Homo sapiens: one gene and its partner. The protein of the gene in region 1 purifies or fractionates together with the protein of each later gene. This does not show direct contact. Each region holds a gene or a part of one and is shown on either strand. Other genes may lie near its edges.

What was found. Proteins that work in one complex are often made in the same cells at the same time.
Region 2: the proteins of SNW1 (region 1) and DHX8 purify together in Homo sapiens (affinity purification with mass spectrometry; 4 studies listed by BioGRID and IntAct, with this or other methods). This does not show direct contact.

What each region holds. Positions count from the first base shown.
Region 1 is NC_000014.9:77,719,397-77,724,094, forward strand, and holds part of SNW1 (SNW domain-containing protein 1), read right to left. Parts: intron 3,882-4,698; coding exon 3,785-3,881; intron 1,433-3,784; coding exon 1,315-1,432; intron 1-1,314. UniProt on the Homo sapiens protein: Involved in pre-mRNA splicing as component of the spliceosome. As a component of the minor spliceosome, involved in the splicing of U12-type introns in pre-mRNAs.
Region 2 is NC_000017.11:43,520,944-43,526,808, reverse strand, and holds the end of DHX8 (ATP-dependent RNA helicase DHX8), read right to left. Parts: intron 5,441-5,865; coding exon 5,244-5,440; intron 4,763-5,243; coding exon 4,583-4,762; intron 3,182-4,582; coding exon 2,962-3,181; 3' UTR 1,139-2,961; downstream 1-1,138.

The DNA of each region.
Region 1 (4,698 bases):
GGAGGCCAAGGCAGGAGGATCACGAGGTCAGGAGTTCAAGACCCGCTTGACCCAACGTGATGAAACCCTGTCTCTACTAAGGATACAAAAATTAGCCTGGCATGGTGGCACATGCCCTGTGATAATCCCAGCTACTCAGGAGGCTGAGGCAGGAGAATCCCTTGAACCTGGGAGGTGGAGGTTGCAGTGAGCCGAGATGGCACCACTGCACTCCAGCCTGGGCGACAGAGTGGGACTCCATATCAGAAAACAAAAACAAACAAAAAAAACTTTGAAATCAAGACACCCAGTTTGAATCTTAATTCCATCAGTCACAAGCTAAACCTGTGTTTCAATTTCCTCATCTATAACATAAGAGATAATAGTATTATTTCATAGGATTTTTGTAAGAATTGAGATAATAACAAGACTTAGAACAATGCCAAGAATATAAAATGCATCTAATAAATTATCACTTAGAAGAGCTTACTTAAAACCTCCAAGTCATAATTAAGTTTCCCACTCTACTTTCCAGTAGAACTTACACTTCTGTATTCTTGTGTGTGCGCATGCGCCCGCGTGTGTTTTCCCAGGCTTAAAGTGTCCTAGTTAGCTAATGGCAATTGGTACTAGAAATCAGATTTCCTGACAGCCAGCCTAGTACTTTAATCCCGTTTTACAGCTTCATTTTTAAAAGAATCCCAAATTGATATATTTCTATAGCATTAAAAGAAAAATCCAAAAATCAACAACAAAAAAACCCAAGAGGCACTTTTGTAGGACACTGACTCTTTTATTTTTTTGAGATAGAGTCTCAGTCACCCAGGCTAGAGTGCAGTGGCACAATCTTGGCTCACCAAGCAATTCTCGTGCCTCAGCCTCCCAAGTAGTGGGGATTACAGGCGTGCACCACCACACCTGGCTAGTTTTCGTATTTTTAGTAGAGATGGGGTTTCACCATGTTGGCCAGGCTGGTTGTGAACTCCTGACCTCAGGTGATCTGCCCGCTTCGGCCTCCAAATGTGTTGGGATTACAGGCAAAAGCCACCATGCCTGGCCTCCCTGGTTCTATTTTAGAAACAAAAGGTTGACATACCACAACACCAAGTTTTTAATCACCTAATTTCTTTCTTCTCCTAGTGTCTCAAATCTCAGCCCACTATAAGAAGTTAAAATCAGAACTGTTTCATCTTGTCTCAAGTTTCAACATACAACTTCCAATTTTTTTGTCATCATGCTGGCATTTACATCCAAATGTAAAGTATGTTAATTTTCGTTTCCCTGAGGATAGGTATTCACATCAACACACACAATATGCTGTTCCTAAACTTGTACCTTGGATTGGTTGAAGAGCCTTTGGTCATACTGAACTTCATTGGAAGTCCGAGGATTAGGAACACCGAGAGCAATAACTTCACTGATATCCCGATTTTCATTTCTCTGAAGTTTCGACCTATTTTGAAATACGACATCACTAACTGAAAACTCTTTATAGACAAGCTGAATATGTTCAATAGAAATACAACCAATCTCAGAAACAAAGGATGTGAATATGTCACATTCACATCTTGTGAACATATATTCCTTGATGATACATAATCAAGCTGGCAGCCCTTATAAAGCATTTCAGATTAGAGGGAGAGTTTTACAATTAGGACGTCCTGTTAGCTCAAAAGAACATCTAACAGATTCGTTGACATGGAATTCTTTAATATAAGCAATCACCTTACAACCATGCTGAGATATAAAATTGCTATGGTCTATATTTACTATCATTATATGATGGTTTGGGGGTTGGGGAAGTGGATACAATTTAGATGTAGCACACGAAACATTTTAAATAAGCTAGAAACAGCTCTTTTATCTAACCACATTTAGTAATTTTATCCCACTAGAATTTTGAGGAAAACATGTCAATGACTGAATTAGTATGATTTTTGACATTCAGATTAATTTGGTTTCCTGGCTGTTGCATTATATATGCAACCTACATCCCAATGAAACCATGGTAACTGTCATTACTTGTTTTACTAAAAACTCAGGTCACAAAATGATTTCTATAGGCTGTTTGATTTTCATCCAGTTACAATTTCACAGCTTTTCTATGTTGTCAATTCTGATAGCCACTTTACTCGTTTTGAGGGCCCAATTTATCCACAGAGCCATTGTAACTTTTACAACTTAGGAATTACTAACCAAGACTGTCATTAATTAAACACTTTCACACTTTGCTCCTCCTTCTACATGTACTTTACCCTCAACTCTCAAGAGTAAGAGTCTTTGCTTCTCCATGACATCATTTATCCAGGGAGATGAAATATGCCAATTAATACCAGCAGGAATCTTTTTCATGCTTATTTATTTTTATTTTTTTATTTTTTATTTTTTATGACACGGAGTCTCACTCTGTCGCCCAGGCTGGAATGCAGTGGCACGATCTTGGCTCCCTGAAACCTCCGCCTCCAGGGTTCAAGTGATTCTCCCACTTCGGCCTCTCGAGTAGCTGGGACTACCGGCATGTGCCACCACACCCAGCTAATTTTTGCATTTTTAGTAGAGATGGGGTTTCACCATGTTGGCCAGGCTGGTCTTGAACTCCTGACCTCAAGTGATTCGCGTGCTTTGGCCTGCCAAAGTGCTGGGATTACAGGTGTCAGCCACTGTGCCCGGCCTCTTTTTTGTGTTTAAAATATGACTTGAAAAATGTATTAGGCTCATGGGATGATCAGAGCACAGAAAACTGTTCATTTGGGAAGAAAATATTCTATATTTGCATTTAACCCTCACTCAGAATTCCACCTTAGTATTGCAGCGTTCCCTCTACTTTTCAGAACTTTTAGTCCTCAGCCTTTGGTGAGCCATAAACTTCCCCAATTCCTACTTTACTCTATGCCCTCATATATATATTTAGTTTGTTCTATACGTTTATACTTACTAAGAGTGCTTTGCAAATTTTCTCAAATTATTTTATGGATAGCTCTGTCTTTCTGAACTGTAAGTTAAACTACTCCTAAAAATGAGCTGATTTTCTACTTCTTTCAAAACTGCTCTTCTCCTCAATTGTACTAGATGCAGTACTATGCATATAAAATGATCTCAATAAAAGCATGAAAGCTTATTTCCTGTCTAAAGAGGCACATAATCCATTTATCTCACCATTTGAGGTAGAAAAAGAACGGACTATAACAGTCCAAATTTACTACTACATCCTTTTCAAAAATCTGATCTCGATTCCGTTTTCTATATTCCCATCATTCTCAATTCTGACTTAAGTGATGGAAGATTAATTCCAAAGACAGTCAACTAGAGCTAAGACAAAGTAGTTAAGTACAAGAAAATTAAGTGCTAATTTATTAAGTTATCAAACTAAAGAAGAAAGGGAGAGAAGCAAAACTGATCTTAGTGGACTAAAACTCTGCTCTAAAAGGTACAAAAAGGCCACTCTTCATGATTGGTACATATCTTTTTTTTTTTTTTTTTTTTTTGTGAGATGGAGTCTCGCTCTGTCGCCCAGGCTGGAATGCAGTGGCGTGATCTCGGCTCACTGCAAGCTCCACCTCCCGGGTTCACGCCATTCTCCTGCCTCAGCCTGCCAAGTAGCTGGGACTACAGGCGCCTGCCACGACCATGCCCGGCTAATTTTTTGTACTTTTAGTAGACACAGGGTTTCATCGTGTTAGCCAGGATGGTCTCGATCTCCTGACCTCGTGATCCGCCCGCATTGGCCTCCCAAAGTGCTGGGATTACAGGGGTGAACCACTGCGCCCGGCCACCATGATTGGTACACATCTTAAATAACACCTACCTCTTATCAGGAGCTGCCCTGGAAAGATTCCGGTCATGCTGTCTCTCTTTTCGCCTGTCATGCCGGATTTCATCCCTCTCACGTGCCTCCCCATCCTCTGTGTGAACAGTTGAAAAGTACTTCACTGTAATATGTATTATATGTGTGCATACGTGTACACGTGTGTATATATATAATTTTTTAAAAAGAGACAGCATCTCACTCTGTCACCCAGGCTGGAGTGTAGTAGCATGAACATGGTTCACTGCAGCCACTACCTCCTGGATTCAAGTGATCCTCCTGCCTCATCCTCCCGAGTACCTGGGACCACAGATGTGTGCCACCATGCCTGGCTAATTTTTAAATTTTTTGTAAAGATGGGGTCCCACTTATGTTGTCGAGGCTGGTCTCAAACTCCAGGCTCTAGTGATCTTCCCACCTAGGCCTCCCAAAGTGCTGGAGTCACAGGTGTGAGCCACTGCACTCAGCCCCATTAGTATTTTGTTTGTTTTGAGACGGAGTTTCGCTCTTGCTGCCCAGGCTGGAATGCAGTGGCGCGATCTCAGCTCACCGCAACCTCTGCCTCCCGGGTTCAAGCGATTCTCCTGCCTCAGCCTCCCAAGTAGCTGGGATTACAGGTGTGCACCACCATGCCGGGCTAATTTTTTATTTTTAGTAGAGATGGAGTTTCACCAAGCTAGTCTCAAACTCCTGACCTCAAGTGATCTGCCGCACCCAGCCAATATTCTGAACAAGAGAATATTTTTTAACCTTAGAAAATTCCAAACTTCTTTGTAGTCACACTCAGCCTTTTAAACCTTACTTGCAATTAATTTAAGTCTAATAAATGATATTAGTTTAATTTTTGAATGTGAATTCTAGAATCAAGCATGCGGCTAAAATATTTAAGGGTAAAATGTATTGCTGTCTTCAAC
Region 2 (5,865 bases), on another chromosome or scaffold:
CAAAATTTTAAAAACAGGTTTTAAAAATATATAATTTAATTCCACATTAAAGCCAAGCTATCGTGGTGGGAAGAAGGTGTAAAAATCGGTGGAAACCCTGAAGGCCGAGTACACACACGAAGAGAGAGGGAGTTAGCTGAGAAGCAGCATCCAGGGAAAGAAAGGTCTCCACAAGCTGAGATGATGGCCCTCTGCCCTCTGAACTGTTCATTAACAAGTCACCAGTCCCAGTTCTTTGTTCAAATCCTCAAACTTGGAGAGGCACTGCTCCAATGAGACAGCTACAGCAACCACAGGGAGGAAGTGCTTTGGGCTGCAGGAGAGACAGTCAAAGCCAAATCACGTCCAGGCGGGATGAAGTAAACCTGGACCGAGGAGCCTGACCCAGCTGCGGAGCTCACACATGCCCCATAGGGACGGTCCTGCCATATACACAAACAGCACACTCAGCATGTGTGCAGAGGCAGGCAACTCCTGAGCTTGGTTCTCGCGGGGTGGGGGTGAACAATATACTTTAATGGCCAAGAAGATCCCAGCTCTCTGCATGAGACCCACATCCTCTCCTGGGCTGTCACTCAATCTTGGGAAATACTGGTTCAAGGAAGAGAAACAAGGGCTCCATTGTGTGAGAGCAGCAGGCAAGCTCCCCTTCTGCATCTGGACAGGACCCCCCCCTTCTCCCTCAGAGCAGGCTCAGCTCAGCTGCTGACATTGCTTTCCTGATGGTCAAAAGGTCAGAACCCAGCTATGTTGTCATAGCAGAGAAGTGACCTCAGCTCTAGCGTAGAGAGATGGTCAAGGAACACCCACAGAATGGGGATCCTTCTTTTTCCTCCACCTGAGCCAGAAAAGATAACGAACCCTGCTGTCTCTTATCCTTAGCCCATTCAACATCCCTTTTCAACCTCAGCTTGAAACCCAACCCTCCCTCCCCAGGTGTCAACATTGTCAGTGCTGGGCACTCAGTCAGGACAGGCTGGGCCACTATATCCAGGAGTGTTTCTGAATGGGGAAAATTTAGGCTGGAATTAGGACTGGGAGCCAGGTGTGGTGGCATGCACCTGTAGTCCCAGCTACTCAGGAGGCTGAGGCAGGAAGATCACTTGAGCTCAGGAGTTTGATGCCAGCCTAGGCAAGATGGCAAGATCCTGTCTTAACAAAAACAAAAACAAAACGAGATTGGGGAGGTGGGTGCCCAGTCCCCGTTTCCCCTTTGGTTTCATTTGAGGTCCCTGTACTGTCTCTCCCCAGAAGGCCTTCAAGGTTAACACACAACAATGCCCTGCCCCTTGATTACTGGCCTGGGCTTACAAAGGCGAATACTCAGACAGAATCAGGAGGCACTCAGCTTAATGAAGGGGCAGGGATCTGCAGCCAGCAGATTGCCTGGCCTATATTCCTCTCCCTCGGACTCTTTCTGAATTGTCTTTAGGGTGTGGTTTGCTGCCCAGTGACAACATACATTCCTTTATATCCTGGAATGTTACATAGTCTCTCTTAGTGTCTGGCATACAGTTCTACAGTAGTTCTAGCATTTACATCACTTCAGAACTTACTAATAACATAAGGACAGGAGAAGCAGCAACGTAACAGGATGTGCCCAATCTCTCAGAAGCTTCTCTACAAGCACTACATCCAGACCAGCTTTCCGTAAGTTCCGAAACCTGGCCTGGCAAGACCTGCCTGATGTTCCGCCAGGTAAGGAGCCTCCTCAGTGCAGAGGACAGTGGCTCTCAACTGTAATCCCAGCGCTTTGGGAGGCAGAGGCAGGAGGATTGCTTGACGCCAGGGATTGGAGAGCAGCCTGGGCAGCACAGTGGGAACCCATCTCTATGGGAAGAAAAAAAAAAAACCCTCCTCAGGAGCTGTGAGGAGGGCACAAGGAGGTGGCTATTCTCCAAGCAAGTGCTAGGAAAAAACCACTAAGAACAAGCCCTGCAGCACAGATACTGGCAGCACAAACCAGCTGAGAGGAGAGGTGTTATGTTTGTTTTCTGTTTGGAGTGGGGAAAGGGAGGTTTTGACCATAAAATCCCTTTGTTAAAGTCCATCCAGGACCTCAGGGGAAAAAAATAAAAACAAAATAAAATAAAAGCTGTGTTGTTACTTAGTATGTTTCAAAAGGAAATGGGACATGCTGCACATTGCGAATGTGGGAGGTGGAGGGAGCAAGGGGAAACCTTCTGTATTTAATATGTGCCATCTGTAGCCACTCAGGCCTCCAGACTGAAGTGCTCTGTGGAGAGGACATGGTTGATCATCGGGTGATCCCCCAGCACGGCCCGGCTAGTGCTGATGCTGAAAGACAAGGCTGGAAGTCTGGGTTGTACGTCGTTTCCGAGCGCAAAGAGGCCCTGCGTTCTGGTTTCAGGGGATTCAGGGGATTCTCATCATGTGTGCCAGAGCACAGATACTAAATCTCCCTCACCCTGAGCCCAGGCCAATATCCTAACCTTTCGGCTAAAAGAAAACAGTCACAGAAAACCATTTTTGTTTCCTTAAGAAAATAAATATTTCCACGAGGTCAAGCCAAAGTACAGGGGCTGGAGACGGGGTGGGAAGTGGGGCAAACACTTTAGATGAGCACAGTAGCTCCTGCTAGCTGGGGCATCAGGGCACTCACCATGTCCCTGCACAAGATGCTCACCCACTCCACCTTCCCATCCTGGAGCTGCACAAATTGTCCCTTTCTTGAAGTTGATGCAATGTGTCTCTGTGTTAGATATGAGCTCCCAACTGGGCCCAAGGACTTGGGGTGATGGAGGCTGCAGGCTCTTGCCAAAGCCAGGTTTAAATCCCTGTTTCTATTTTACCAGCAGGGAAGAAATGAGAGTCGAGTTGAGAAAATGCTCAGTTAAGACAGTCAGTCACGGGACAGCTGTATCCTCAGGACCAGCCTGTCATCGATAAGTCCAAGCCCTGGCTACTGCTGCTGGAGAGGCAAAGGAACAATCTTGCCTTTCAGCGCCGTCGGAAAGCTCGAGATATTCTCCAGGCATTGGGTTCCTCATAGCGGTTGTACAAGGGTTCAAGACGCTGTTGCTTCTTCTGTTTGCTTAGCTTAGTTGGGTCTGAGACCTTGAAGAAGGCTGGGGCAAACTCCACAAGCCACCGAGGGTCGATGGTGGTAACTTCACGCATGTATTCCTTGGTGGTGAGCACCAGCTCATGGTACACCACCCTGAGGGGGGACAGAGATAGTACTCAAGCCTCTGGATATAGGCCCCACTCTACAGTCAACCTGGTCCCTAGTAGGCCTCAGCTGAGCTTACATTTTATACTATTACCTCTCCTGCCTGACACCTATAAGACTGCAGTCTGTTTATGACAGCCACACCCCAATACTGAAGCACCCGCACACCTCTAACCACAAGAAAGGTCTCAGGAGAATGTATTCTAGTCCTGGCTCTGGCTCTAACTAGTTAAGTGACATGGAGCCAATCACATCCCTTCTCTAATCTGTTTCTTGCTCTATAAAATGTGAGGATGTTTATTAGAATGTTTCCACAGAATTCTAGGGCTCTGAAGAGGGGCCTCACACTGCCACAAGGGATGGAGAAGGCCAAACATGCAAGGAGCCACATTTCTAACCCTTCTACTGTGATAACATGGTGGTTTTAAATCAGTTTTATATTAGGGTTCTAGATAGAGTCCAATTTTTTAAAAATGCTACTTTAAAACAAGTTTTTTTTTTTAAACTACATCACTAGGTAGTTGTTTTTTTCTTTCTTTTTTTTTTTTTTTTTGGGACGGAGTCTCACTCTGTCTCCCAGGCTGGAGTACAATGGCACAATCTCAGCTCACTGCAACCTCTGCCTCCCGGGTTCAAGCTATTCTCATGTCTCAGCCTCCCAAGTAGCTGGGATTACAGGTGCCTGCCACCACGCCTGGCTAACTTTGTATTTTTAGTAGAGACATGGTTTCACTATGTTGGTCAGGTTGGCCTGGAATTCCTGACCTCTGGTGATCCACCTGCCTCGGCCTCCCAAAGTGCTGGGATTACAGACGTGAGCCACCATGCCTAGCCCCTAGGTAGTTGGTTTTTTTTTTTTTTTTTTTTTGAGATGGAGTTTCGCTCTTGTTGCCCAGGCTGGAGTGCAATGGGTGATTTCGGCTCACTGCAACCTCCACCTCCTGGGTTCAAGCGATTGTCCTGTCTCAGCCTCCCAAGTAGCTGGGATTACAGGCATGCGCCACCATACCTGGCTAATTTTGTATTTTTAGTAGAGACAGGGTTTCTCCATGTTGGTCAGGCTGGTCTTGAACTCCCGACCTCGGCTGATCTGCCCACCTCAGCCTCCCAAAGTGCTGGGATTACAGGCATGAGCCACTGTGCCTGGCCACTACGTAGTTTTTTAAACCACAATTTTTTTTTTCAACTAGGTCTCACCCCTATGATTTTAATTCTCTCATAGGGTTTGATACATTGTGCCTAATTCAGGTTTCTGCTGCTCTAGAAAGGCAAGCAGTGTTATACTAGGACATACTGGGAGTAGTGAAGACACAATCACAAAATACCAGGAAATTTACAGGTTTTTCTCTGCCCAGAAAAGCCCCTAGACCCTGGGACATGTCCACCTACCATTCTGGCTGTCTGTTGAAGAGGGCACTGGAAGGATGGATATAGACCACCTGCTGGTCGATCAGTGTCCGGTAACCCTCCTGCGGGTCTTTCTTGGCAGCATTACGGAAGAACCCACTGCAGATGGCCTTCTGCACTCGGACTGTGGACTTGCCACAGGAAACAACATCCAGCTTGTGTCTATCAAGATAGGACAAAAGATATGAGCCCACTCAGCTTTCACAGGTCTATTTTCACAATGACAGTGCCCAACACATCCATCTTGGGGTGCCCAGAGTAGTCACCAGGACCTTCCTTCCAGCCCTAAGTGTACTACAGAGGCAGCTCTACACAGTGGGCAGACGGAGGCACTCAGAGACAGACACTTTGTTTAGACAGGTATTCAATTCCACAGTAATAATGTTCCAGAGGGTTGCAAACAAAGAGCATTTTTTTCAACAACTAACAGATAATCTTCCTCTTAGGTATCTGAGGTAATTCTCAGGCATACCCTTACTTGGGGAGAAGGAATATAACAAAGATGGAAAAGCTGGAGGAAAAGGGTTATGTGAGGAGCAAGAGAAAAGGTGCCTATAGCTTTATAGGTACACACAGAGATGAAAAGACATGATACTCAAGGTGGTTCAACTCAAACATGCAGAGTCATCAGATTCCAGCTTACCTGTCCATTATGCCTAACATCTGCTTGCGAATGTCCTGGGCCCGGCGCAGGGAACGAGCCTGGATAAAGTTCTCATAGCACCATGGGTTGGAGAACTTGTTGTTCTTCCAGGAGTTGTACACAGCTAGCAGGGTGAGGTGGTCCCCTTCAGTCTGGTGGAATTTGGCCTTCTTCTGATCTGCAAGGGCTTGTTTATCCTGCCAAGCAGTGGGACAGAGGAACATTTCCGACTCAACAGCTACTAACTGAACATGGAGCAATTCTAGGGAGCCCTACAAGACCCTATCAAAAGTGTCCACATCAGGCTAGGCATGATGGCTCAGGCCTGTAATCCCAGCATTTTGGGAAACTGAGGCAAGAGGATCACTTGAGGCCAGGAGTTTGAGACCAGCCTGGCCAACATGGTGCAACCCTGTCTCTACTAAAAATACAAAAATTAGCAGCACACGGTGGCGCACGCCTGTAATCCCAGCTGCTCTGGAGGCTGAGGCAGGAGAACTGCTTGAACCCGGGAGGTAGAGATTGCAAGATCATTCCACTGCACTCCAGCCTGGGCAACAGAGTGAGACTCCATCTCAAAAAAAAAAAAAAAAAAAAAAAAGTCCACATCAAGCATTGGAAT